Homo sapiens: one gene and its partners. The protein of the gene in region 2 purifies or fractionates together with the protein of the main gene of each other region. This does not show direct contact. Each region holds a gene or a part of one and is shown on either strand. Other genes may lie near its edges.

Region 1 (7,026 bases), on a different chromosome or scaffold from region 2:
TCTATCCAGTCGAACACCCGCTGGTTACTGCTGCCCTCCTTCAGCAGCTTCTCCAGCTGCCTGTTCAGCTCCTCGGAGGGGAGTGCCCTCTGGCCAGGGGCTTCCGACTCCTCTCCCAGGGTATACTCCACCTTCTGCAATGGAAAAGGCCCGCAGTTAAGAGGTAAGGTTGCCAACAGGAGACAAGAAAGAAGACTGGCCAGCCTCAAATGCTAGAATTAACCCAACTCCATCCCCAAACCTGTTCAGCGACGAATGCACCAATGTCCTGGCCTTCAGGTAGAAATTCCTTCCAGCTAAGCCCGGCTTCTCGCCACAGCGTCCCCACCTTTTTAGGACCCTGGAAAACACAAGACCAACCCAGCTTACCAAAGCTCTCTCTCTCCAAGGACCCAACAGCTCTACCACATTAATCCAACAAATATTTACTGAAAGCCTACTAGGTACTTGCTAGGCATTAAGGATGCTATAGAAATACTAATAGGCAAAGCCCTTCCATTCCTACGGTCTGGTGCAGGGCACAGATGTCAGTCAAATAACCACCCAAATAAATAAGAACTCGTCCCAGGAGCGGGCGGTGGCTCACGCCTGTAATCCTAGCACTCTGAAAGGTCGAGGTGGGCGGATCACCTGAGGTCAGGAGTCGGAGACCAGCCTGACCAACATGGTGAAACCCCGTCTCTACAGAAAATACAAAAATTAGCCAGGCGTGGTGGTGGGTGCCTGTAATCCCAGCTACTCGGGAGGCTGAGGCAGGAGAATCGCTTGAACCCAAGGCGAGGGTTGCAATGAGCTGAGATCACGCCACTGCACTCCAGCCTGGGCGACACAGCGAGACTCTGTCTCAAAAAAATAATAATAATAAAATAAAATAAAAGAGAACTTGTCCACCAAAGTGCTATGACACTAGGGTAGGAAAAATGATGTAAGGGCCTCTAGGAAGGGACAACTTCTAACAAGTATGCTTGTTTCCTAAACCCAGAAAATCTTAAGACACAAATATACCCCATCCCTAACACAAATAAAAAATCCTCATAAAACCAGCAGTCTGAGTGCATTTTCTGTAAGGGGCAATAGACTATGAAGACATCACTCTTTTCTTTATAACAGACTAATGGCACTGGCTCTTAGCAAGATTATTGCAGTTCACAGATTTTAAAACATGCCCATTTTTTCACATTTTAACTAAAAGTTGTCTTACAGCCGATATATATCTTTTTTTATTTTGAGACAGAGTCTTGCTCTGTCGCCCAGGCTGGAGTGCAGTGGCACAATCTTGGCTTACTGCAACCTCCCCCTCCTGGGTTCAAGCAATTCTCCTGCCTCAGCCTCCCAAGTAGCTGGGACTACAGGTGCGCACCACCATGTCCAGCTAATTTTTTTGTATTTTTAGTAGATACAGGGTTTCATCATGTTGGCCAGGCTGGTTTCCAACTCCTGACCTCACGTGATCCACCCACCTCTGCCTCCCAAAGTGCTGGGATTACCACGCCCGGCCCAGTCTTTTCTTTCTTAACAGCGCATAAAGAATGTCTTATAATCTATGGCACCTTGGAGTTGATGAAATACACAAATAGTTCAATATGCTTATTTGTTGTTAAAAAACAACTTGTCCTGGTACACGTCTATTTAAAAGAATTAAATGATGTTGACATAACAATTCCTTTAAATCCCAAGTGTGATTCCTCCAGGTTCCAGATGGCTGAACCCTTGAAACTGCACACACTCACCCCAACTTCTCACTTCCACTAAGTACCACATTCAACTTACCTTTCCCCATCTCTTTACCTTTATATTCGCTAGTTACCAATTAACTTTCACAAAGCCGCTTCAGCACCCTGAAAGCCTCCTGTCACAAATATTGTCAAATATTCCTTTGCAACCCCACAGTACTTAAGATACTCCACTCTATTTCAACTGTTTTATGTCACGCTTTACTGTTGTTTTTATCAAGCTGTCATTTCTTTTTTCTTTTTTGGAGACAGAGTCTTGCTCTGTTTCCCAGGCTGGAGTGCAGTGGCACAATCTCGGCTCACTGCTACCTCCGCCTCCCGGGTCAAGTGATTCTCCTGCCTCAGCCTCCTGAGTAGGTGGAATTACAGGCACCTGCCACAACACGGCTAATTTTTGTGTTTTTAGTAGAGATGGGGTTTCACCATATTGGCCAAGCTGGTCTTGAACTCCTGACCTCGTGATCCACCCACGTCGGCCTCTCAAAGTGCTGGGATTACAGGCGTGAGCCACTGCGCCCGGCCCATTTCTTCCTTTTTCTCTACCAACTTGTTTCTTGTGTTTTATTCATTGCTGTGTCCCTAGTGCTTAGTATATGATAAATGATCATCAACAAAACCCTAGTTCAATGAATGAATAAATAAATGCATCAATCACAGGCCTAGGGTCTTAGACTGCCATTCTCCTCCAGTCTTGGCCAGAACTCATGATAGGAACTGGTGTGCGGGAGATGGCCCACCTCAGTATTTCCTCTCCCAGGTACCAACACAATCCTGTCATCACCATCACTCCACTCCACCAATGGACCATGAAGCTTCAGGGCCACAGCAAACAGCCAAAACCACACCGTGGGAGGCATCTCTGGACTCCTGGCCCTCACTCACCATGCTTTTGCACAGGAGGCCCAGGATCTCCAGCAACAGGGAAGCAGCTTTGCCCAACGGTCTCAGAGGCTTTGTAATCTCCCTACAAGAAGAGAAAAACCTAATGCTGACAGCCTCCACAGTTCTCTCACCACTACTCCATCTCCCTCCAAACCAGGGTATCCAACCCAGCCATTTCCCTACCACCTTTCCTCTGGTCTTTACCTCCCCTGAATTCCACCCAGGGGGACTTACCTGAACAGCTCCCCCATGGGCACCCCACCTTCCTGCAGAATGGGTGTTACCAGTTCCGCTAGGTAGAGCCACACGTGGGGGATGTCAATTTCCATGTCCTCAGCCAATTCCAAGATTTCATACAACCTGCCAAGGGAATTCAAAGTCAAGACATTCTAGGCCAGGTCCCCACTCTCCTTCTGGGGCAACGTGGCATGGCTAGGGCATCAACTATGGAACCCCCAGGAACATTTTCTAGACATGGGGACAATTATTTCAAGCTAAGGCCACCTCTGTGTCCTTAGATGGTTTTCACCCCGCTTAACCCCCTAAAGTTATGCTGACCAGGATGGTCAAGGAACCCATACTGTTTTTTGGTTTTTTTTTTGAGACAGTTTTGCTTTTGTCACCCAGGCTGGAGTGCAATGGCACGATCTCGGCTCACTGCAACCTCCACCTCCCGGGTTCAAGCAGTTCTCCTGCCTCAGCCTCCGAGTAGCTGGGATTACTGTGCCACCACGCCTGGCTAATTTTTGTATTATTAGTAGAGACAGGGTTTCACCATGTTGGCCAGGCTGGTCTAGAACTCCCAACCTCACGTGATCCTCTAAGGAATCCAACCCACCTTGGCCTCCCAAAGTGCAGGGATTACAGGCATAAGCCACCACACCCGGCCAGGGAACCTACACTCTTATGCAAGGTTCCAAGGGTCCCAAAAAGGAGATAGAAAATTGTGGGTCTGTATAAGTGGGAGGCCCAGAGAAGCTGGTCATACCCTTGGTAGTACTGAGCAGTAGACAGATGCCCAGCACAGAGCAGCTGGTGCAGCAGCTGCCCCATATGCTCACGAGCAATGGCACTGCGCTCCAGCGTAGACTCGACACCATGCCGTACAAAGATGAAGAGCAAGGAGGGTGAGGCCAGCTCCTGCACGCACTGGACTGCCTCCTGAGGGGTGCAGGGCACAGCAGGAAGAGACCAGTCACTGTCTGACCCAGACCCCGGACCCCTATGCCTGCCAGCATGATCCCTCCCTGCCCACTCCTCAATCACACGCCGCTCCCACTGCCTACTTTCATGTCATTGAGATGGAGATATTCCTCAATGATAGCCTTGGATTTCTTCTCTAACTCCTCCTCAGAGAGAGCCGCCTTCAGGGGGCTCACTGGGGGTAGGGCAGCTTCTCGCTTCACTGTGGGAAGAGAACACAGATTAGAGGGACTTTTCAGTCTTCCCAGCAAACAAGATTTGGAGCTCTCAAAAAGCTGGGGACCAGCTAGTCCCAAGGCAGCCAATGCCTTTCCCTCCATTCCTCTCCCAGACTCTCACCGGCATCCCGCCCACGGTCCCGATCCTCCGTGAGGCTAGCTGCCTTGCGCAGCCCCTCAGGCTGGGAGGGCCGTTCTCTACTCCGCTCCTCCACTTCCTTGCTGAAGCTCCGCTTGGTAGCAGGTGTCCGCGCACGATCAAGCCGGTCCCCACGGTCCCCTCCCCGTTCACTCCGCTCTAGGCGGTCTCCTCGGTCTCCAGCTTTCTCGCCTCGTTCTCGGCTCAAGCTACTCCTGGAAGACAGACAGACAAATTTTCACTCACTTGCACTGCCCAGGCACTCATGTAATTACACAACATGCTGAGCAACTGTTGGGCCTTGTTCTTAGCATAATGAGTATGCCCCAATCTAACCCAAGGGCTCCAACCAGGACAGGTATGAAGAAATTTCCAACCTATGGCAACAACCAGAACCCAATCACGGTACCCCCAGTGTGAATAACAAAGATGTCCAGGAAACCTCACCTCTGCACCACACGTCTATTATCTGTGCTTTCTGTGGGTACCGCTTGTTGAAGGGCTGAGAAGCGATTCAAAGTACTAGTAGCTGGGCGAGCAGCTTCTGATGCTGGGGATGCAGAAAATCCGTATTAAAATCTTTTTCTCCTTTCCTGCATTTTATCCCCTACTTGCCAGTTTAGGACACTTGGTCCCAGTCCCAAAAGTAAAGCAGTTCAATCCCTGGAACCACAACACAAACCTCCTCTATTGCCCGCATTGCCTAACCACCTTGTACTGAAGGCCTCCCTAACAGAAAAGGCTCTGTCCTCAAGGGAGCTCTGACGGGTAACCACCCAGCTCCTGACACTGCCTCCATACCTGCGTCTGAGGGCTTGGCTCCTGAGCCTCCGCTGCTGCCCTTGCCCCAGCTCAGTCGCCCTCCAGGTGCAAAGAGCTGGTTGTTAGAATCGATGGAGCCAGGCTGAAGAAGAAAAGGGGAGTAGAATCATAGGTCCAACCCGGCTGAGTCCCTTGGCCAGCACCACCATATGCAACCAAACAGGTAGTGAATGGCCCAGTCCAGGGGTCAGAAAATCTTTTTTAATAAAGGGCCAGTCTCTATTGCAACTACTCAATTCTGCCACAGTAGCATGAAACCAGCTGTAGATGATAAAGGCATGCTGTGACTGTGTTCCAATAAAACTTCATGGACACTGACATTTACATTTTATTTAATTTCCACAGCATAAATTACCATTCACTTTTTGATTTTTCGCAACTTTAAAATGTAAAAACCACTACTGGGTCCTGGGATGTATGAATGGGCTGGATCTGGCACGTGTGTGTGTGTGTGTGTGTGTGTGTGTGTGTTTGCCAAACACTGGTCCAGACTAATGGGAGTACCACCCTCCCTCTACAGCTGGCAGTCCTGTCTCCAGCAATCCAACCAGTTAGTCTAAGAGGAAACATTCAGCTGTCACCTTCTCAACTTTAGAAAAGTGAAGGGACTAAGATCTAAACCTGAGCTGAATCACCCACTCCCACACACACCCCTACCTTGGTGATCTTGGTGAGTCGTGAGGTGTCAATGGGGCGGCTACCTTTGCTGATGGGAACTGTGTTCCAGCCACCATCATCCACAAGGGGAAGTCCACGGCCTGACACAAAAAGAGGGGCATACTGGAATAATGAATAAATCCTAGCAGCCCCTTCCCCTTGGGCCACCCCCAGCCTCCCTTCCTCAGATCCTCAGTTCCATCATGGTGTCTCAGTGGCCCAGACACGTGGCACTAACAGGAAGTCATCAGAGGAAAGTATAACCTCCCGGTCCCTTCACTGCTCCCTTCTCAATCCCAGCTTGGAACTCACTGATGGGAGGGCCTGGAGGACCGCCCCGACGCTTGTCACTGCCCTTGGCCATGAGCTGCTGCACTTTGATGTGCTCTCGATGTTCTTCCATCTCAGCCTCCTTATGGATCTGGTCAATGGTCTTGGGACCCTGATCCCCTCGGCGTGGCACCCAATTGCTCTGTGGAGACAGAGGGCCAGTCACGATGATGTCAGGGAAGGCAAGACAAGGCAGTGTCAGAAACTGGAGGCAGCAGGCTGGCAGTGGGGAGGAGGGGGACACACACCCCTCGCAGATCCAGCACGTCCTGCAGCATAAAGCGGATGCGGGATGACGTCTTCTTTTCTTTAATGATTTTTTCCATCTGGTTGAAATACTGATCCATTCGGGGCTAGGAAGGAGAAAGGCATCAGACCAGGAACTTCTCATGTCCCACCTATAACTGCAGGCCCCACCCCTCCTCAGGCCTTCCGCCCCATCATTGTGGGCTCAGTGAGCCCCACATATGCTTCAGCCCATCCCCCTCCAGATGCAAGGACCTCTACCTTGGCTTTTTCAAAGTCCAGGTCTTTGCCAATGGTGGTGAGCAGACGACAAAGGCACTCAAGGGACTCTTCATCATGGTTCTTAAGCAGTTTGACCACACAGTCATGCATTATTGCCTCTGTTAACATCTTCAGTTTGAACAACTCTCCAATAAACTTGATATTCCCTAAAGAGCGCCGCCGGGCTATGTCCCGAGCCTCTTCCAGCTCTTCCTTCAGGCGTCCTCGTTCCTCTGCCTGCCATTCACAGGACAGGGATTGTGTCAAAAAGATAACCAGCCACTCGGCTAAAACCCTTTTCTACCTGGATATCCAAACCTAGCAATAAGCACTCAGTCCTGAGGCCGGCTGGCTGGGCATAGTGGCTCATGCCTGTAATCCCATCAATTTGGGAGGCTGAGGCAGGCGGATCACTTGAGGTCAGGAGGAGTTTGAGACCAGCTTGGCCAACATGGTAAAACCCCGTCTCTATTAAAAATACAAAAAAATTAGCCAGGTATGGTGGCACATGCCTGTAATCCCAGCTACTTGGGAG
Region 2 (7,026 bases):
ACCACTGCCCTCCGGCCTGGGCGACAGAGCGAGACTCCGTCTCAAAAAAAAAAAACAAAAACAAACTTTAAAATTGGAAATAACATATGTAAGCTCATGCACAGGCCTTTCATTTCCATAATGCTTCAAAATGCAGTCCTGTGTGACATCTTATTTGATTATTTTTATAGGGAGAAGATGCTCTGCAGTGGTTGTTTTCATACACTGCTGACTCTCACAGTGAAATGGTTTTAAGGGGTGCCATTATATATTGCTTACAGATTCCCTAGTGTCAAGTTCCATCCTCTATCATGTATATGTTATTCTGTGAGTAAGATACCCAGAAGGCCAAAATTAAAACTCTTTATGAAAGTTTAAATACAAATACAGAATAGTGTCAATTAAGATAAAGCAGTGTTTCTAAGTAATGTCATTGAAAAAAGAGGTATATTTCATCTCAAAACATTCTGGAATTCTCTTTTCGTGATGGTAGAGGAAATAACTGAACTTGAGTACAGTATTTTAAGTAATTATTTGTAATTAGGTTTGCCTTATGTACATTTATGAGCCAGTTTCTTAAATTTGTAGTAGATACTGCTATGGTCCTGATAGTGGGAAAGTACCAAATCAAGAAGTTTAACTTGAATTTGTGTACCTCCTGTCTCCCATTTTGTGTAATGGTTAGCATGGCATGCATTGGGCACTTATTTTGTTTGATTATGTATATGATCAAATTGAGTATCCCTGGAGGGATAAGGAAAAGGTAGTATGGCATCTTCTGTCAAAATGAAGTAATTGGGCACAGAGAGGTCATGTAACTGAACCCGTACGGGGGTCAAGATGGTGGAGCTTATGAGTTTTGACTCAGTCTTTACTATGCTAAACTTACCCAATCCCCAACTAAATCAAAAGGTGGCTTGCACTGGGATCTTTTTGACTTTACAATGGGTTTATCCGGATAGTAAATGCATTTTTTTACTTGAGAAGGGTTTATCCTGACAGTCTCATCATAAGTCAGGGAGCATCTATATAGTGCAGTAAAGGTGAAGGTGAAATATTGTATTACATTGCATGAAATGTCTTTTCATGGCTGGGCTGTAAACACCAATATAATTAGTCTAATTCTAGGCACTCTGGGTGGATCGATTGTGTTTATGCAATGTTGTTGGTTTAGGGAAACATTTGTTATTCATTATTTAAAGTAGCTTTTGTTTTGTTTGTTTTTGTTTTTGTTTTGAGACAGAGTCTCACTATGGCTCAGGCTGGAGTGCAGTGGCGTGGTCTCAGCTCACTGCAATCTCCACCTCCTGGGTTCAAGCGGTTCTAGAGATGGAGTTTCACCATGTTGGCCAGGCTGGTCTCGAGCTCCCGACCTCAGGTGATCTTCCCACCTTGGCCTCCCGGAGTACTGGGATTACAGGCATGAGCCACCACACCTGGCCTAAAGTAGCTTTTAATTATGGAGAATGTGGCAGAACTCACTTTTAGTAACAGCTTTATTCAATGTAATTTGTATACCATAAAATTTACACTTTTAAAGTATACAGTTTGGACCGTGTGCAGTGGCTCACTCCTGTAATCCCAGCACTTTGGGATGCCAAGGCAAGAGGATCACTTAAGCCCAGGAATTCAAGACCAGCCTAAGTAACATAGTGAGACCACGTCTCTACAAAAAAAATTTTAAAAATTAGCCAGGGGTGGTGGCATGTACCTGTGGTCCCAGCTACTTGGGAGGCTGCAGTGGGAGGATTGCTTAAGCCCTGGAGGTCAAGGCTGCAGTGAGCCATTATCTCACTACTGTACTCCAGCCTGGGTGACAGAGCAAGACCCTGTATGATTTGGTGGGGTTTAGTATATTCAGAGATGTTCAACCATCATTATTATCTAATTTCAGAACCTTTTTATCACCCCCAAAGAAAAGTCCTTTATATAGGACTAACAATTCCTTTTCATTTATCTTTTTATTTATTGAAGTGAAACATCACTTAGAACATGGTTCTCAGCTAAGGGACAGTCTTTTCATCCCAAACCCTCATCCCACCCCAGAGCATTTGGCAGTGTCCAGAGACGCTTTTGGTTGTCAGAGTGGAATGGGGATCGGGGATTACTATTGGCATCTAATGAGCAGAATCAGAGATAACTGCTAAAATCCCCCCATGACAAATTACCTAAGCTAAAATATCAGCAGTGCTGAGATAGAGAAACTCTGAGTTAAGAAGTAGGCTGTATTTATTTTAGTATCTATTATAACAAATCCTGTTTATTAAGAAAACCATGAATGTGTTGTCTCTTGTTTAACGGCTTCTGGACTTAGCAATATTTCCGTTTTTAAGATCTTTTATTAAACCTGTATGGGTATATAAAGAGCTGGAGGTGTGTTTTCCCCACTGTAGACCATGTATAAATAATTGGGACAGGTTTTGTTTTGTGAGGTGATTGATTTGTTAACTTTTTAACCAGTTCACATAAGATTTAGAGAAAATTAAAGAATTGGACCAGTTCATTGTTGAATTGCAAAGGATTGATAAACCTGGAGCATTAAACAGTGCTTTACTTATAAAGCAGAGGGAACACTGTTGAAATCTAAACATGTAATGGGCCTAGGTATTGAGGGAGCAAAGGGCATGGAGGATTTAGATAACATCTTTTCTCAGTTAACTGGAATGAAACGGAGTGGAACAAACACGGGCACCTACTTTAGGTTTATTGATTTTGCTTTCCAAGGGCTAATTCCTTTAAACCTGCTGCTTATATTTTGACTGAGTCAGTGCTGCTGCTACAGTTAAATAAGTTGAAGATCTTGTAAGGAATTTTAGCCTGTTTTTTTAAGACTCATCTAACAGGTGGGGCGCAGTAGCTCAGGCCTGTAATCCCAGCACTTTGGGATACAGAGGCGGGCAGATCACCTGGGGTTGGGAGTTGGAGACCAGCCTGACCAACATGGAGAAACCCCATCTCTATTAAAAATACAAAATTAGCCAGGTGTGGTGGTGCATGCCGGTAATCCTCGCTACTTGGGAGGCTGAGGCAGGAGAATCGCTTGAACCCGGGAGGCGGAGGTTTCGGTGAGCCGAGATTCCACCATTGCACTCCAGCCTAGGCAACAAGAGCAAAATTTCTGTCTCAAAAAAAAAGACTTATCCAACAGTAATTTCTTTTTTTTTTCCTTTTTTTTTTTTTCTTTTTTTTGTGGGGGACGGAGTCTCGCTTTGTAGCCCAGGCTGGAGTGCAGTGGCACGATCTCAGCTCACTGCAAGCTCCGCCTCCCGGGTTCACGCCATTCTCCTGCCTCAGCCTCCCGAGTAGCTAGGACCACAGGTGCCCGCCACCATGCCCGGCTAATTTTTTTGTATTTTTAGTAGAGACGGGGTTTCACCATGTTAGCCAGGATGGTCTCGATCTCCTGACCTCGTGATCCACCCGCCTCGGCCTCCCAAAGTGCTGGGATTACAGGCGTGAGCCACCACACCCAACAGTAATTTCTTAACCAGAGGGCCTGGGAGTGGGTGGCAATCAGAGGAGGGGGAGACTTGTGATTTGAAAAGACATTCTAAGATTTAAAAGTGCTTTTAATATTTTTTAGTCATGATATTTAATTTGTTTGGAAATTTCAAATAACGTTAAAGAAGAAACTTGTTTGTCAAAGGAGTCAAGGGGTGAGAGTTGAGAAACTGTGATCTACAAAGTTGATTTAAGCCAAATCGGACTAAAGGGCAGATTAATTCCACATTCTGCTGTTTTGGTAGAAGATACGTATATAGAACAAAGAGGAAAGGGATACCTTATTCAGATTGTTAATGTTCTTTTGTTGAACTTGACCTTATTGTACTGACCACCAGTTCTGTTTTTATCCTCCCAGTGGAAGGACAGGTTAATAATTGGATATTAGCTGATGGTACTAGATTAAGCCCCATGAGGGTAAGGATCTGTAGCTAGCATCATATTAATCCCAGACACTATTTTTGAATTAAATGATATGAAAAAGTCTAAAATAAGCCCACGCACTGTAAGTGGTTTACCTCATGTCTTACTCGTGTTCGCTTATTAAAATCTCCCATAGATCTTTGCATATGAGGCTGGGCACAGTGGCTCATGCCTGTAATCGCAGCATTTTGGGAGGCCGAGGTGGGTGGATCATTTGGGGTCAGGAGTTTGAGACCAGCCTGGCCAACATGGTGAAACCCCATCTCTACTAAAAATACAAAAATTAGCCAGGCTTGGTGGCACATGCCTGTAATCCCAGTTACTCAGGAGGCTGAGGCAGGAGAATCACTTGAACCTGGGAGGCAGAGGTTATAGTGAGCCAAGATGGCGCCACTGCACTCCAGCCTGGACAAGAGTGAGACTCCCTCTAAAAAAAAAAAAAAACCTTTGCATATGAGCTGCAGCAATAAAAGTGCTATGAGACCCAACCTCTCTGTAACCGTATTCTTTGAAAGCTGTGGAATAAGGCCAAGTGCAGTGGCTCACATCTAATCCCAGCACTTTGGAAGGCTGAGACGGGTGGACCACTTGAGGCCAGGAGTTGAAGACCAATCTGGGCAGTGTAGCAAGACCCCTGCCTCTACAAAAAATTTTAAAATTAGCTGGGCATGGTGGTGCATGCCTATAGTCCCAGCTACTCAAGAGGCTACAGTGGGAGAATTGCTTGAGCCCAAAAGGTCAAAGCTGCAGTGAGCCACGATTGCACCACTGCAAAAAAAGAAAAAAGAAAAAGCAGGCCGGGCGCGTTGGCTCACGTCTGTAATCCCAGCACTTTGGGAGGCTAATCACGAGGTCAGGAGATCAAGACCATCCTGGCTAACACTGTGAAACTAAAAAAAAAAAAAAAATTAGCCTGGCGTGGTGGCACGCGCCTGTAGTCCCAGCCACTTGGGAGGCTGAGGCAGGAGAAATTGCTTGAACCTGGGAGGCGGAGGTTGCAGTGAACTGAGATCGCGCCACTGCACTCCAGCCTGTATGACAAAGCGAGACTCCGTCTCAAAAAAAAAAAAAAAAGCGTAGGATGGATTCAAAATGTGATCTGGTTGATCATAAACAATACTTTTGGAGCTGGATTAATATTAAGTCACTTGAGAGATACAGAAAATACCATGTTCGTGGTCAACTTTGATTATTTTAGCCGGGTTCATCTGGTTTGCACATTGAGACCGTAATACTTCAGGTTCTAATTGTGTCCAGAAGGCTATGTGTTAACATTCATAGCAAACTGGTTACCTTTATTTCCTGAAAGTTAAATTTTGAAAGAAAGGGATACCAAGTGAGAAAGCAACCTTCAGTTAAACAAAGGGGTACATCAAGTTTGATATTCTTGGATTAAAAATCAGGTGACAATTGGAACATGGAGGAGAAATTCATGATTATAAAAACCATGAAGCCAATCTTTTTTACAACAAAGCTGCTTGTTTTTTTCTTAATCATGTAGTGGCTGCTATCAGGCCAGTTCTGGAACTTCACTGAGTCCCTCTGCTCTTCTGAATCAGCTCTTGATTGGTGGTGACTTCTCGGAAGTTCTGAGGACCACAAAGAAAGAGCAGTGTCAGTTCACTAAGTTGAGCCATTTGGAGATTACTAAATATTCCATAACTGTGGGAAACACTTAAATGTGTTGGTTATTAGGGTTTTCGTGTGTTTTCCTTTTAGCATTACATCCTCATATGCAGTGTTGTTATAGTAGAGGAGGACATTTTTTCTAGAGGGCAGAGAGATCTAGGGAATATGACTGTTAACATTTGAACACTTTCAAATAGCAGTACGTTTTACTGTGGTTTTGATAACCTGACATAGAATAAGCTGCTGAGATGCAAGGATACCTTGGTATATAGAAAGAGCCTTAGACTTCGTATGAAAAAAACTTAGGTTTTATCTTCAGCCTAGCCATCTAATGTCTCTGTAACTTTACAGACATCTGGTGTTTCACTTAACCTCTCTGAGACTTAGTTTCCTTTTCTGTAAATTGATAGTTGTGGCCAGGCACCATGGCTCATACCTGTAATCCCAGCATTTTGGGAGGCTGAGGCAGGAGGATCACTTGAGCCTGGGATCCTCCAGGATACTTGAGACCAGCCTGGGCAACATAGGGAATTAAAAAACTTTTTAAAAATCAGCTGGGCGTGGTAGTGTGCCTCTGTGGTCCCAGCTATTGAGGAGGCTGTGGGAGGATCACATGAGCATGGGAGGGTTGAGGCTTCAGATAGCCGTGGCCACACCACTGCACTACAGCCTGGACAACAGAGCAAGACCCTGTCTCAAAAAAAAAAAATGGGGCCGGGTGTGGCGGTTCACACCGTAATCCCAGCACTTTCGGAGGCCGAGGCAGGAGGATCACCTGAGGTTAGGAGTTCAAGACCAGCCTGGCCAACATGGTGAAACCCCGTCTCTACTAAAAACACAAAAAATTAGCTGGGCATGGTGGCGGGTGCCTGTAATCCCAAGTATTCGGGAGGCTGAGGCAGGAGAATTGCTTGAACCCAGGAGGCAGGGGTTGCAGTGAGCCGAGATGGCACCATTGCACTCCAGCCTGGACAACAAGAGCAAGACTCTGTCTCAAAAAAAAAAAAAAAAAGACAGTTGTGATTCCTTCCCTATATGGTTTGTTTACAAGTGTCAAAACAGTCTTCAAAACTGCCATACTGAATATGTTATGTGAGATACGAATTTTTATTGATCTTTTTTATCCAAAGAGCAGTGAAAGTAGTAACTGAATAGAAGTAGTTACAAAATTAAAGATCTCAAATGATAAGTGAATATAGTAGAAAATAAAAGGTTGCCCCCACACTCCAAACATACTCTCCAGGGTGTATCTCAAACACTCAGACCCTTTTCCGTACGTAAACATGTGTTTACACATAATAGGTATTCTGCAACTTTTAAATTTCTTATTTATGTCTGCATAGTACCCCTTCATGGAAATGCCATAATTTAACCATTTGAGGAGCGTCCATGTTATTTCTTTCTAAATAATGTTTTACAATATTGCATTGTACAACTCTGTAAATACCTGAGTATTGGTGAATAATCTTTCTCTTGCCTTTTAAAACAGCAAAA
Region 3 (7,026 bases), on a different chromosome or scaffold from region 2:
ACATCCACAGGTACCTGTTTCTCCCTCATTCGGAAAATTTCAAAATTTGTGACAACACCCTGTTTAAAAAAAAGGGGGAAGGGGTGACATTCTGGACAGTGAAAATATGAGAAAAGGTTTAAATCAAAGATCAACGTCACAATGAAAGATTCAGTGTGCATGCCTGGTTCACACACGAGCATGTGCAGTGATGAAAGCCACAGCCCTCAGGATGGAAGACGGTTCTAAGGCTGGAGAACTGCCGGCACCACGTCTACTGGAAGCCACTGGACATGCATGAAGTAACTCTGACCCAGATCCCACCTCCAGGAGCCGCCCTGCCCGCCACACTTGGGCACAAGCAGTCCCAGGGTCCACACTGCAGGCTGCAGGCCAGGGTCCTGAGGGCCCTAAAGGCACACCAATGGGGCTGGGTAAACCACTTCAGACAGTGGGGTGTCCTGTAGCCATAACCTTCAAGAAGTCCTGCCCTACTCGAGGAGTCTGAGGGAAAACTGCCCTGATGTCCATCAACAGAGGAAGGAGGCCAAGAAACGGGGTCCACCCAACAAGAGATTACTGCTGACACTCAGCACCGTGGACCAGCTGTGGGAACGCTGTGCTCCGTGAAGGAGGTCAAACACAGAAGGTGGCATAGTATCCGATTCCAGCTGTGTGTTCAGAATAGGGAAATCATAGACATTCGTGATGCCAGGAGCTGGGCGGAGAGGCTGCTAACAGGTATGTTGTTTCTTTGTAGGGTGACAAAAACATTTATTTATTTATTTATTTTTGAGACGGAGTCTCACTCTGTTGCCCAGGCTGGAGTGCAGTGGTGCAATCTCGGCTCACTGCAAGCTCCGCCTCCCGGGTTCACGCCATTCTCCTGCCTCAGCCTCCCGAGTAGCTGGGACTACAGGCACCCGCCACCACGCCTGGCTAATTTTTTGCATTTTTAGTAGAGACGGGGTTTCTACTAAACCCTCGATCTCCTGACCTTGTGATGCCCCGCCTCAGCCTCCCAAAGTGCTGGGATTACAGGCGTGAGCCACCGTGCCCGGCCTTTTTCCTATCTTTTAAAAATTATCTGTGGAGATGGGGTCTCACTGTGTTTCCCAGGCTGGTCTGAAACTCCTAGCCTCAAGCTATCCTCCCTCCCACCCCGGGGGAGCCACCGCACCCAGCCGATGAAAACGTTCTGAAATGAGTGGTGGTGGCTGCATAACTCTGAACACACGAAAAACCACTGAACCAGTTCACCACTCTAAAGGGGTGTTTTCAGGCATGTGAACTACATGTCAATTAAAGCTTTCTTAACATAAAAGAAAGAAGAATACTTCTATTAGAGGGAAAACTCAGGAATTTCTTTTTTTTTGTGAGACGCAGTCTGGCTCTGTCGCCAGGCTGGGGTGCAGTGGCGCAATCTCGCTCTGTTCACTGCAAGCTCTGCCTCCTGGGTTCAAGCGATTCTCCTGCCTCAGCCTCCCGAGTAGCTGGGACTACAGGAGCCTCCCACCACGCCCAGCTAATTATTGTACTTTTAGTAGAGATGGGGTTTCACACCACGTTGGCCAGAATGGTCTCAATCTCTTGACCTCATGATCCGCCCACCTCGGCCTCCCAAAGTGCTGGGATTACAGGCATGGGCCACTACACCCAGCCAACTCAGGCAATTTTTTGATAAAATAAATATTAAATGATCAACCACCAAAAATAAAAAAATAAAAAAATAAATCTTGAGTATACTACTCCTTGTGCTTAGAAAGAAAATAATATTCTCAGCCAGGCACGGTGGCTCACGCCTGTAATCCCAGCCCTTTGGGTGGCCAAGGCGGGCAGATCACCTAAGGTCAGGAGTTCAAGACCAGCCTGGCCAACATGGTGAAACCCTGTCTCTAATAAAAATACAAAAATTAGCCAAGCGTGGTGGTGGACGCCTATAGTCCCAGCTACTTGGGAAGCTGAGGCAGAAGAATCATTTGAAACCAGGAGGCAGAGACTGCAGTGAGCCGAAATCGCACTCCTGCACTACAGCCTGGTGACAGAGTGAGACTCCATCTCAAAAAAAAAAAAAAAAAAAAAAAAAAAAAATCCATTAACACCCTCCAAACAATACGGTGGCCACTTCAGAGCTCAGGATAAGGAATCGTCAGTTCCTGTGGGAATCTACATACCTGGGTGCCTTTCGGAGTCCTATCTACTTTCACACACAAGTAGTCTCCGTTCTTCTGCCAATGGAGCTTGCAGTCCACCACATTGAACAGGTTCCTCACTCGGATCTCTTGCCTGGTAGGGAGCTGCATCAGGGTTACCCTGGCTGGAATATCTTTGTCTTCAGGCACCCAGAAGGCGATTATGTTACCACCAGGAGACCAAGAAAAGTCTCTGCAGAACAGGAAAATAAAATGTTAAAGCAAAGACCAAGTGATGACGAAACTGAAAAGCAGAAGAGAATAGAACAACTCATTTGCTATATAGAAGCTCAATGCTGTCACAGCTGACGCTGAGCGCTCCCTCTGCACAGCCACTGCTCTGGGCATGCCGCGCAGCTTCATAGGTCCTCGCCAGGACCCTGTGGCACTACTGTGCTCACTGTGACAAGGAGTGAATGCAGACAGAATATTAGCAACCCCACCATCACGCACAGACTCATATGGACTCCAGCCTGGGCTCCGTCAGCCCACTCTTAAGACACCGCACACTGCTGCTTTGAGGCAAATAAGTTTTAGGCTGACGGATCTGGCTACATGTCATCTAAAGATTAATTAAGGTGCAAATGGGGAAAATGGCAAATCAAGTGTAAGGAATGAGCAAGAACAAGGGCAGCTCCCTCCACTTTATCAACTACTCTACAGAAGAGCTGCTGTAACGAACGGCTCCTGAGCTCACCTACATGAAAAACATCTTTATACACGCTATGTGCTGTTTTGCATTTTTTGAGAACCAACGTCCTGGTCTTTTCATTTTATAAGCCATAATTTTGCCCAAGAATGTAAAAACGAAAGAAGAAACGTCAATGTCCTTGGATTGTTGGAAGTTCACTGCCGTGATACTGACCAGTCCCAAGTTTTGCGATAAATAAAAACGTGCCCATTCTTTGCTGGTGAAAATGAGCCGAAGGCTCCCCAAACCCTGCCTCGGATGGAAGAGTACCAGGAAAACCTTTCACCTAAGCAGAGTCCCCTCTTTTCCTTAAAAGGCTGGAAACCCCACCCTCCTCAGTTTCTAGATCAAAGACGAGGTAGATGGAAGGAAGCCGACTCAAGGCTCTGGCCTTGAAAATTCATTTCTAGGCACGGGAAGGGGTCACTGAAGTGGTGCCTCAAGGGTGGCGGGCCCAATGCTGAGCAGCCTTGCTGCCCACTGACTCAAGCCTCCATCCTTGTGTCCAGAACAAACTCACCTTAGGCCGGGCGCGGTGGCTCACACCTGTAATCCCTGCACTTTGAGAGGCTGAGGCGGGCAGGCGGATCACTTGAGGTCAGGAGTTCGAGACCAGCCTGGCCAACATGGTGAAACCCCGACTCTTCTAAAATATACAAAAAATTAGCTGGGCGTAGTGGTTGCGCGCCTGTAATTCCAGCTACTCAGGAGACTGAAGCACCAGAATCGTTTGAACCTGGGAGGTGAAGGCTGCAGTCAGCCGAGATCACGCCACTGTACTCCAGCCTGGGCAACAGAGTAAGACTCTGTCTCAAAAAAGATTTAAAAATGGCTGGGTGTGGTGGCTCACGCCAGTAATCCCAGCACTTTGGGAGGCTGAGGTGGGCAGATCACTTGAGGTCAGGAGTTCTGAGACCAGCATGGCCAACACAGTGAAACCCCATCTCTACTAAAAATACAAAAATTAGCTAGGCATGGTGGCAGGCACCTGCAGTCCCAGCTACTTGGGAGTCTAAGGCAAGGAGAATCACTTGAACCCAGGAGGTGGAAATTGCAGTGAGCCAAGATCTCGCCACTCTACACCAGCCTGCAAGACAGAGTAAGACTCTGCCTCAAAAAAAAAAAAAAAAAAAAAAAAAAAAAAAAAATTTTAAAAAAAGAACAAACTCACCGTTTTCTCTCCAACTGGTTAAGAACTGAGTGACAGGCTGGGCATGGTGGCTCACGCCTGTAATCTCAGCACTTTGGGAGGCTGAGGCGGGCAGATCACAAGGTCAGGAGTTTGAGACCAGCCCAGCCAACATGGTGAAACCCCATCCCTACTAAAAATACAAAAATTAGCCGGGCTTGGTGGCACATGCCTGTAGTCCCAGCTACTCGGGAGGTTGAGGCAGAAGAATCACTTGAACCCAGGAGGTGGAGGTTGCAGCGAGCCAAGATCGTATCACTGCACTCCAGCCTGACGGAGCGAGACTCTGTCTCTAACAACAACAACAAAAAGCTGAGTGCTAAAGGAGAGACAGCAAATAAAGGAAACCAACTGCAATGGACCACGTCTGTGTCCCCCAGATTCACAGGGTGAAATTCTAACCCCCTGGGGTGACGGCATGGGGTGGGGCCTTTTGGGGGGTGGGAGGTCCTGAGGGGGAAGCCCTTGGGAATGAGATGAGAGACTTTACAGAACAGGCCACGGAGGCCTTCCTCCAGGGAAGGCTGGACCGAGGGGCTGTCCACTAGGAGGGAGGTGGGCCGTCACCAGACAGTCTGCAGGCACCCTGACCTCAAGCTCCCAAGCTCCAGAACTGGGAGAAAGAAATCTCAGCTGTCATAAGCCACCCAGCCTATGGTATTGTGTTTTTTTTTTTTTTTTTGGTATTGTGTTAAGCAGCCTGAACACACTAAGACACCAAACTGATAAGAATACTCACTTTATCCCAGAGATCTTCAAACTCTTCTTGTCCAAAAGACCCATAGACTGCCCAAAAAAAAGGAAGGCTGCAGTTGAGTCAAATCATGTCAGTGTCTCAGAAACACACCTAACTTTTTACAAAAGGAAACAAGAGTCTGATGTGAGTTTGCCTAGGGGGCAGTGCACACAGAGCGTGACAGTGAACCCATCCACCCACCCGCCACCCAGAACTGCAGTTCTGAAGCCCACTGCATTAACTCCCATCCAGGACTTCCCACGGCTGCGCCAGGTGGGCAGGAGTGACTGAAGAGCTCTGCCCAGAGCAGGGGCAGTTAAAAAGGCACAGGAGACAGGCCTTTCCTATGCATCTGTGAAACCTCCTCCTCCTCTTCTAGCACAAATAAGGAAAGGCACCACACCCCGGTTACAAGCAAGGACCGGACGGGGCGTTTGCCATCACTGAGGCCACTTACAGGAGTTTCATAGATGCTAAGCGTATCCAGGGTCATTCTGGCAAAGAATTTGCCATCATGGCTCCACCTAAGAAAAACAAAAGTGCCAGGGTATTCCCATGAAAAGACAAAGGCTACAGAGCTCGTTACAATGGTCCACTTACTTAAAAATAGGCCAATGGGCTGAGCTCTCACAGTGAAAACCCCTCTTCTTGTGCCCCGTAAGGATGTCCCAGATGATTATGGCCTGAGGGTCATCCTGCGTGTCCATCAGGGGGCTAAAGGTCACCAGGTACCTAGAAGAGAAGGGCAACACTGTACACTATCCTCCTCTCACGAGAGGATCACAGTCTGTCTGTGCGGCCAGAACACGCCGTCAGAACTCGCGGAACCAGCTCTCTCCCCAAACCCCACACTGCCCGGCCCCAAGAGACCCAAGCGGAAGCGGGAAGCAGCGGCGCTTGTTCATTCTGGTGTCAATACGCTGCAGGCGCTCCGGTTTCTCCAAGATCAGCACAGAAGATCTCACCGATCCCACACAAGGCTGCTAAGTGATCCAGAGGGTGGCGCAGTGTGGAACTCTATCTTTACCCATGTTTAATAAAGACTAACAAGTTAAAAAAATACGGCTGGGCGCAGTGGCTCACACCTGTAATCCCAGCACTTTGGGAGGCCGAGGTGGGTGGATCACCCAAGGTCCGGAGTTTAAGACAAGCTTGGCCAACCATGGCCGACATGGTGAGACCCTGTCTCTACTAAAAATACAAAAATTAGCCGGGCGTGGTGGCAGGCACTTGTAATCCCAGCTACTCAGGAGGCTGAGGCAGGAGAATAGCTTGAACCCGGGAGGTGGAGGTTGCAGTGAACTGGTATCGTGCCACTACATTCCAGTCTGGGCGACGCATGAAACTCAGTTTCAAAAAAAAAAAAAACAAAACAAACAAACAAACAAACAAACAAAAAAACAAGTCCCATCCAGTTCGAAAGCCAGCACAGGTCTGATAGAAACTTCAGAGCCTGGGGGCTCCTCCCAGCCATGATTTACCTGACTGCTGGCTTGTCTGGAGCTACTGCACCTGCTTACTCAGTTCACACAAAGTGTGTAACAGACGGTCCCTTACAACACCAGAGGGGAAGGCAGACACAACCCATGAGGGCGAAAACAGAGCGGCCCCAGCTCGCCTCGCACTGCCTTCCACAACTGCCCCTTTCCCTAGAGTGGCCCCCGTTCGCCTCACACTGCCTTCCACAACTGTCCCTTTCCCTAGAGTGGCCCCAGCTCGCCTCACACTGCCTCCCACAACCGCCCCTTTCCCTAGCAGGCCTCCGACAGCCGGATTAGCTAGATCAAAAATCACGGCTCGGCCAGGTGCGGTGGCTCACGCCTGTAATCCCAGCACTCTGGGAGGTCAAGGCAGGAGATCACTTGAGCCCAGGGGTTCAAGACTACCTTGTACAACAAAGTGAGACCCCCATCTCTACAAAAAATAAAATTAGCCATATGTCATGGCGTGTGCCTGCGGTCCCCGCTACTCAGGAAGGCTGAGGTGGGAGAACCGCTTGACCTGGGAGGCTGGGGTTGCAATGAGCCTGCAATGGTGCCACTGGGTGGCGCCAAGCCTGGGTGATAGAGGAAGGACAATTTATTATCTGTAAAATACGTGACCTTAGACTAGATCCTGAACTGAAGGAAAGTAAGTATTATACAGAACATTATTAGGTCAAGTAACAAAATCAGAATATGGCAATACATTGAAGTATTAAATGAATGGTAAATCCCTGAAGTCAGTACCCACACTATGG
Region 4 (7,026 bases), on a different chromosome or scaffold from region 2:
CTCTTTCCTTCCTTCCTTCCTTCCTTCCTTCCTTCCTTCCCTCCCTCCCTCCCTCCCTCCCTCCCTCCCTCCCTCCCTCCCTCTTTCTTTCTTTCTTTCTCTTCTTTCTTTCTTTCTTTCTTTCTTTCTTTCTTTCTTTCTTTCTTTCTTTCTTTCTTTCTTTCTTTCTTCATTTCTGTCTTGATGAACAGTGTTACTCTTAGGAAAGCAATATTACATACTAGCCAAGAGAATCTTGACGACAGACTTGGATTCAGATCCTTATTCCAGCAGTAAGCATGACCTTGGGGAAGTTATTAAATTTTCTAGGCCTCAGGTGTATCCTTTGTAAAATGGGGATGATGATAAAGTAGTAACTCATAAGGGTTGTGAGAATGAAATTCCGAGGTATTTAAAGTGTTTAGTATAGTACCTGTGTCATCGTAAACACTCAGATTACTGTGTCTTTACCACTCTCATCCTTATTAATGTTTCTCAAATCATTTCGAATGCTAACTTTGCTAATGTAGATTGGAATTGTAGAAAGAGCACTTCAGTGCTCCTGGTAATCAGGAGACATGCATTCCAGTCTGCATCCACCAGTAACTAACAACACTTCTATGATTGTTTTACTCCAAAGGTACATTTTCTCATCCACAAAATGATTGCCACTATCCCTATCAATTTTCATGGTTTATGGTTTCTTTCTTTTGCTTTCATACCTGAATCCTGAGGGTTCTTATTGGTGTGTGACCCCAGTCAATCACTATCCTTCCTTTTAGGCCACTTACTCCTTTCCTTTTATGTTTCTTCTCCATCTGTGCATATTGGAGTGCCTCATGGTTTAGGTTTTGGCTTTTCTTTTAGTCTCTGCTTGACATAGGTAGTGTAACGAAGTTGATAAAAGTACATGCTCTGGAGCCAGACTGCTTGGATTTGAATCCCAGCTCTGAAATTTGCTGCATGACATTGGGCAAGTCTTTGTGCCTCATTTTCCTCATCTGAATTGTTTTGAGACTTTAAATGGATTGAATATATGTCAATAACTAGAACAATGTCTGGGACAGAATAAGTCACCATTTAAGCTTTGCTGCTGCTTTATTTGCAGTAATTATAGTAGTATTCTTTAAGGTATTCTTATCTGTGCTCACGGCTTTAAATATTTATATTCTAATAAGTCCTAGATTTATATTTCTGCCAGTAATGGCTCTTGAATGCCTCTTTTGAATACCCATTGCCTGTTTGACGTCACTATTTGGATATCTCATAGGCATCTCATATTTAACATGTACAAAATAGAATTATAGACTTGTTCTTCTCCTTACTTTCCATCACAGCACCCTATATTTCTAGAATTTTCCACAGCCTGTAACTATCTTGTTTGTTTTCTTCTTTGTTTTCCTCATCAGAATGTATGCTACTGAGGGCAGGGACTATGCTTTTTCACCTGTTTTATCTCCAGTGCTGAACCTGTTAATTCACAAAGTAGGATAAATGAATGAGTATGTATTCCATTTTATTATTTATACTAATTTATGTTCTAATATCTTATGCAGGTTATTTTAATATTGTTTTCCCCTGCCTTCTTCAGTCTACCATTCATACTTTTATTTTATTTTATTTTATTTTATTTTATTTTTTTTTTGAGACGGAGTCTCGCTCTGTCGCCCAGGCTGGAGTGCAGTGGCGCAATCTCGGCTCACTGCAAGCTCCGCCTCCCGGGTTCACGCCATTCTCCTGCCTCAGCCTCCCAAGTAGCTGGGACTACAGGCGCCTGCCACTACGCCCGGCTAATTTTTTGTATTTTTAGTAGAGACGGGGTTTCACCGTTTTAGCCGGGATGGTCTCGATCTCCTGACCTCGTGATCCGCCCGCCTCGGCCTCCCAAAGTGCTGGGATTACAGGCGTGAGCCACCGTGCCCGGCCTCATACTTTTATTAAAACGTTTATTTAACGTGAACATTCAGATTTTAACTTCTTTCCTTAGATGTTTTCAGTGACTTTCCATTGAATTGAAGGACCAAAATGTTGTCCTTGTTTCTTGCATTTATGTTCAGGTTTATTTCCTTTCTTTCCAAGCTTTGTAGGAACTGTACATTCCAGCCCCTCAGACTACTTAGTTTTTTCTTTAATAAGTCATGCTAAAGGCCAGGTGTGGTGGCTCACGCCTGTAATCCCAGCACTTTGGGAGGCCAAGGCAGGCAGATCACACGAGGTCAGGAGATCAAGACCGTCCTGGCTAACATGGTGAAACCCTGTCTCTACTAAAAATACAAAAAATTAGTCGGGCGTGGTGGCGGGTGCCTGTAGTCCCAGCTACTCAGGAGGCTGAGGCAGGGGAATGGCATGAACCGGGGAGGCGGAGCTTGCAGTGAGCCGAGATTGCACCACTGCACTCCAGATTGGGCGACAGAGCGAGACTCCGTCTCAGAAAAAAAAAAAAAAAAAAAAAAGTCATGCTAAAGACAGACCTAGAGTCACATCCTTATTCAAAGCAGTAAGCATGACCTTGCTTTTGTTCATGAAGTTCTTTCTCTTTGAAATTGTTCTCTTTCATCATCACATATTGAATAAAAAATGTGACTTAATCGACTTACTCTGTTTTTTTAAAAATTCTCCATATAGTTTAACTTGAATCTGTATACTCCAGATGTATTCTGTTCTTCATTCATTTAACAAATATTTATTGATTGCCGACCACATGCCAGGTCTAGCCCTGCTACATGCTGGGGTATATTGCAGTAACCTATATAAGATATTATATAGGTGAGCAAGGTAGAACCCAGTCCCGACTCTCATGACCATTCTCAGTCATATATAGATGTAGATGAACCCAGAGATTAATCTCATCCTATGTTTAGCCTGATGTTTTAACACATTTGTTCCTTCCTGGCACATTGATAGTGGCCAAGACCAATTTTTCTTGTATTTTTGAACCCTTCCTTTCCTACCTTTAGACCTGTTTCATCACTTCCTCTGTATCTGTAATGTAGCAGTCCCTCCACAGGGCTTGTTTTCCAAAGAAAAGTAAGCCCTCCACAGGGCTTGTTTTCCAAAGAAAAGTATCATTTGGAGGAGCAAAGTTATAAGCCTACCTAAGCATGTCGTAAAGCTGTTCAAAAATAACTCAGAGCTAGTCTTGTGGATGGAAATGTAGTGCCTGAGTCACATTCTGCTTAAAGTTGTAACAAATACAGATGAGTTAAAAGAAAAAAAACAAAAATAAAGAAAGAATGGGTCTTCATTCTGTCAGGTGGTCTCATTGTTCCTAGACAAGATCAAGCTAATTCTTCCCGTTAAACTTTTCATGTTGAACCCACTTTGTTCCCTAGAACATTTGAATTTTACCTTTCTTATGTTCATTAGACCTTGCTATTCAAAGTATGATCCATGTCCAGTAAGATGAGCAATGTTGGCTACACTTGAGTTTGTTAGAAATGCAGACATACGTATCACAGAATCTCAGGCCCCTCTCCTGACCTACACAATCAGGTGATTTATAGCATTTTACTGTTTGAGAAGAAGCTTGCTCTCTTCCTTTCTCTGAGCTTTTTAATGACAGCTTGTATCATTCACCTTGGTATGTGATCCATACTGTTAGTGATTTACTGTTAATATATTTTCCCCTTCTCATTGAGATGATAACCCTTTTGAAGGCTGAAGTATAAAACATTTGTCTCCTCCATAATTCAGTGCTTGAAACCCATTGCTATTGAAATTTCTTACCTTTTAAATTTTGTTTTCCCCTTTAAGTTATCTTATTAGATACCTTATTCCCCTGGTTTTGTAAGTAAGGTAGAGTATGTTATTAATAAATAGAAAAGTATGAGTTACATATACAGTCAGCTCTCTATATCTTTGGATTCTGAATCCAGCAATCTCACATCCATGGATTCAACCAACCATGGATCGAAAATACTAGGAAAAAAACAACTAAAAATACAAATAAAAACCAATACAGTATAATAATTATTTACATAGCATTTACATTGTATTAAATGTTATATGCAATCTAGGGATGATATATAGGAAGATGTGCCTAGGTTATATGCAATAACTAATGCTACACCATTTTATATAAAGGACTTGAGCATCTGCGAATTTTGGTATCCAGTTTGGTCCTTGTTTCTGTCTGAAACTCTTTTTACTTGTTGCTTATTTCTTCACACTAGAATATCAGCTTCCTGAAAGTGGCACCCATGTCAGGTTTGTTCACTACAGTATTTCTAAGGGTCTAGAACAGTACCTCGTGTATAGAAGGCACTCAGATGTTGTGAATGAATGAATATACTCCTGTTGTGTGGAAATTTTCTTGAAAATCAATCATGAAGAAACTGGGTTAGTAAATGCTTGAGTGTTGGTGAGAAAAGAGCACACAGTTGAGGATAAGCTAGTTAGCTTTCTGGGCTTGTTCATATTTCTCCATCTTTTTATTTGTTGATTTCTTATCTGTTTGAAAAATCACTAATATTAATTGGACACCTATTATAAGACCCTGTACAGGGATGTTTGGTTAAATTTTGTGTTGTTTGGTTAAATTTTTTGTTAAATTTTAGATGTTGTGATCCTCACAACAGCTTTGGGGATAAATGTTATCACTACCTTACCTACCTGATGGTTATTCAAATCTAATGGAAAAATTTTGGTGGAAGTACTTTGTTTTTTATTTTGTTTTGTTTTGTTTTTGTTTTTTTTTTTGTTTTTGAGACAGAGTTTTGCTCTTGTTGCCCAGGCTGGAGTGCAATGGCATGATCTTGGCCCACTGCAACCTCTGCCTCCCAGGTTCAAGTGGATCTTGGCTCACTGCAACCTCCGCCTCCCAGGTTCAAGCGATTCTCGTGTCTCAGCCTCCCAAGTAGCTGGGATTACAGGCATGCGCCACCACGCCTGGCTAATTTTTTGTATTTATAGTAGAGACGGGGTTTCACCATGTTGGTCAGGATGGTCTCGAACTCCTGGTCTCAGGTGACCCACCCACCTTGGCCTCCCAAAATGTTGGGATTACAGGTGTGAGCCACCGCAGCAGGCTGGTGGGAATGCTTTGTGAGTTGAATCAAATACTTCGAATTTGTAATGCCAGGCTATCACATGTGTCACTGTAGATTTTTTGTGATACTCTTATGAATTTAAAGAGACTGGACAACAGCTTGTTTAAATTCCATTGAAATGGAAGCTCTTCTCTGAGATCCTGGTCTGAAGTATAATACAGTTTGGCCTTTTAATGTTTTAACAACAAAAAAAATTATATGACCCTTGGCCTCTTCTTCCAGTTTTCTGACTTGAGTGGTGCATACGTAAGTTGTTTGACATGTGAGATAATTTTTTCAGTCAGATAATTTGAAATCCTTTCAAGCACCAAAACTTGCACATTTTAGCTATTTTAATTATATGTGTTTCTGAAGTGTAATACATAATTTTCTGCTGCTTTAGTCAGAGAACATGGAACACAATCTAACCATGTTTTGATGGCATAGTATTATCATTAAGAACATGTTATTGGGCCGTGCTCCCGCCTGTAATCCCAGCACTTTGGCAGGCTGAGGTGGGCGGATCACCTGAGGTCAGGAGTTCGAGACCAACCTGGCCAACATGGCGAAACCCCATCTCTACTAAAAATACAAAAGAAATTAGCCGGGCATGATGGCGGATGCCTGTAATCCCAGTTACTCAGGAGGCTGAGGCAGGAGAACTGCTTGAACCTGGGAGGCAGAGGTTGCAGTGAGCCGAGATCACACCACTGCACTCCAACCTGGACGACAGGCAGAGACTCTGTCTCAAAAAAAACAAAAAAACAAAAAAACATGTTATTGAACCAGACAGGACAGTAGATCTGTCAAGAAATCCCTTCGGGTAGTCTGTTATTTCTATAATAAATGTCCCCTGTTGTTGAACTTTAGGTGCCTTGAGTGGTTTATGTTTCTAGTTGGTGCCTTTTTTGGTTGTTAAATTTATCTGTTTCTTATCCCCTTGCTTTTCAGGTTTTTTTTTGCTGTGAGTGAAAAACCAGTTATGCAGGATTATCTCTAACCTGAGTATTTGTGAGTGAGGATTAAATTCGTTATGCAGTCTGACATTTTGATTGCTTAGTTATATTTTTTGCTTAGGCAAGTAAGATGTTATTGCTTACAAATAGTAACTTTTTATAATAGAAAAATCATTTAGCGTACATTATTATATCTTGGTAGCTCCAGGAACTGGGCGGACTAGTATTATCTGGATTATACATGTGATTCTCCCACTCCAAGAAGCTGGGTGGCTTTTCAAAGACATAAAGTGAATATATCCTGGAGCTTGAATTCAGATCACATCTAGCCATCCTTGACTCATTTTCTTTTACATTTTATAGCAGCTTCATATACTTGAAGACCCCAGTAGTTATTCTGTGTTATGTGACAGGTACTGTTTTAAGTATTGTGTATTTATTATGGCATTGAAGCAATACAACAACTCTTTGATATAGGAACCATCATTATCCCTATTTTATCAATGGGGAGACGTGGGTACAAATAGTTTATGTGATTTGATTAATGTACAGATGGAGGAAATAGAAGTTAAGGTGTGTACAGAATAGTTAATCTAGTGCTTCTTGTTTGAGCATTGGGAAATATGTTTTTCAGAACTCAGGTGTCTTACAGACTTCTAACTTTAAAATGTATGAGAAAACATACATTAGAATCTTTACGTTTGATAATCAGTCATATTGTAGAAGATTTGTAGCTATAAGAAGTCAATTTAGTAAATATTCTGAAGTTTGGAAAAATGCAACCTTAAACTGCTGAGTTCACATATTAAGATACTGGGGATCAATAGTAAAGAAAATCAGCATATTAAGGAGCATTGGGAAGAGTACTGGTACGTGTCCCTAAGTAAGTTAGTTTACCTGCATTGGGTGGTAATTCTAAGTCCATCTGACTTTTCCTTTTTTTTTTTTCCTTTGAGACAGAGTCTTGCTCTGTCGACCGGGCTGGGGTGCAGTGGCCCGATCTTGGCTCACTGTGATCTCCACCTCCTAGGTTCAAGCGATTCTCGTGCCCCTCAGCCTCCCGA

Evidence for each region.
Region 1: the proteins of EIF4B (region 2) and EIF4G1 fractionate together in Homo sapiens (co-fractionation; 4 studies listed by BioGRID, with this or other methods). This does not show direct contact.
Region 3: the proteins of EIF4B (region 2) and EIF3B purify together in Homo sapiens (affinity purification with mass spectrometry; 3 studies listed by BioGRID and IntAct, with this or other methods). This does not show direct contact.
Region 4: the proteins of EIF4B (region 2) and EIF3H purify together in Homo sapiens (affinity purification with mass spectrometry; 3 studies listed by BioGRID and IntAct, with this or other methods). This does not show direct contact.

The regions. Positions count from the first base shown.
Region 1 is NC_000003.12:184,324,580-184,331,605, reverse strand, and holds part of EIF4G1 (eukaryotic translation initiation factor 4 gamma 1), read right to left. Parts: intron 6,729-7,026; coding exon 6,492-6,728; intron 6,338-6,491; coding exon 6,233-6,337; intron 6,127-6,232; coding exon 5,967-6,126; intron 5,911-5,966; exon of another isoform or gene 5,835-5,910; intron 5,756-5,834; coding exon 5,655-5,755; intron 5,080-5,654; coding exon 4,977-5,079; intron 4,726-4,976; coding exon 4,623-4,725; intron 4,391-4,622; coding exon 4,158-4,390; intron 4,021-4,157; coding exon 3,902-4,020; intron 3,777-3,901; coding exon 3,604-3,776; intron 2,976-3,603; coding exon 2,850-2,975; intron 2,698-2,849; coding exon 2,616-2,697; intron 341-2,615; coding exon 242-340; intron 135-241; coding exon 1-134.
Region 2 is NC_000012.12:53,009,452-53,016,477, forward strand, and holds part of EIF4B (eukaryotic translation initiation factor 4B), read left to right. Parts: intron 1-7,021; coding exon 7,022-7,026. UniProt on the Homo sapiens protein: Required for the binding of mRNA to ribosomes. Functions in close association with EIF4-F and EIF4-A. Binds near the 5'-terminal cap of mRNA in presence of EIF-4F and ATP.
Region 3 is NC_000007.14:2,364,810-2,371,835, reverse strand, and holds part of EIF3B (eukaryotic translation initiation factor 3 subunit B), read right to left. Parts: intron 5,520-7,026; coding exon 5,388-5,519; intron 5,312-5,387; coding exon 5,245-5,311; intron 4,903-5,244; coding exon of another isoform or gene 4,879-4,902; exon of another isoform or gene 4,864-4,878; intron 4,838-4,863; coding exon 4,791-4,837; intron 2,365-4,790; coding exon 2,154-2,364; intron 60-2,153; coding exon 1-59.
Region 4 is NC_000008.11:116,745,810-116,752,835, reverse strand, and holds part of EIF3H (eukaryotic translation initiation factor 3 subunit H), read left to right. Parts: intron 1-5,709; exon of another isoform or gene 5,710-7,026.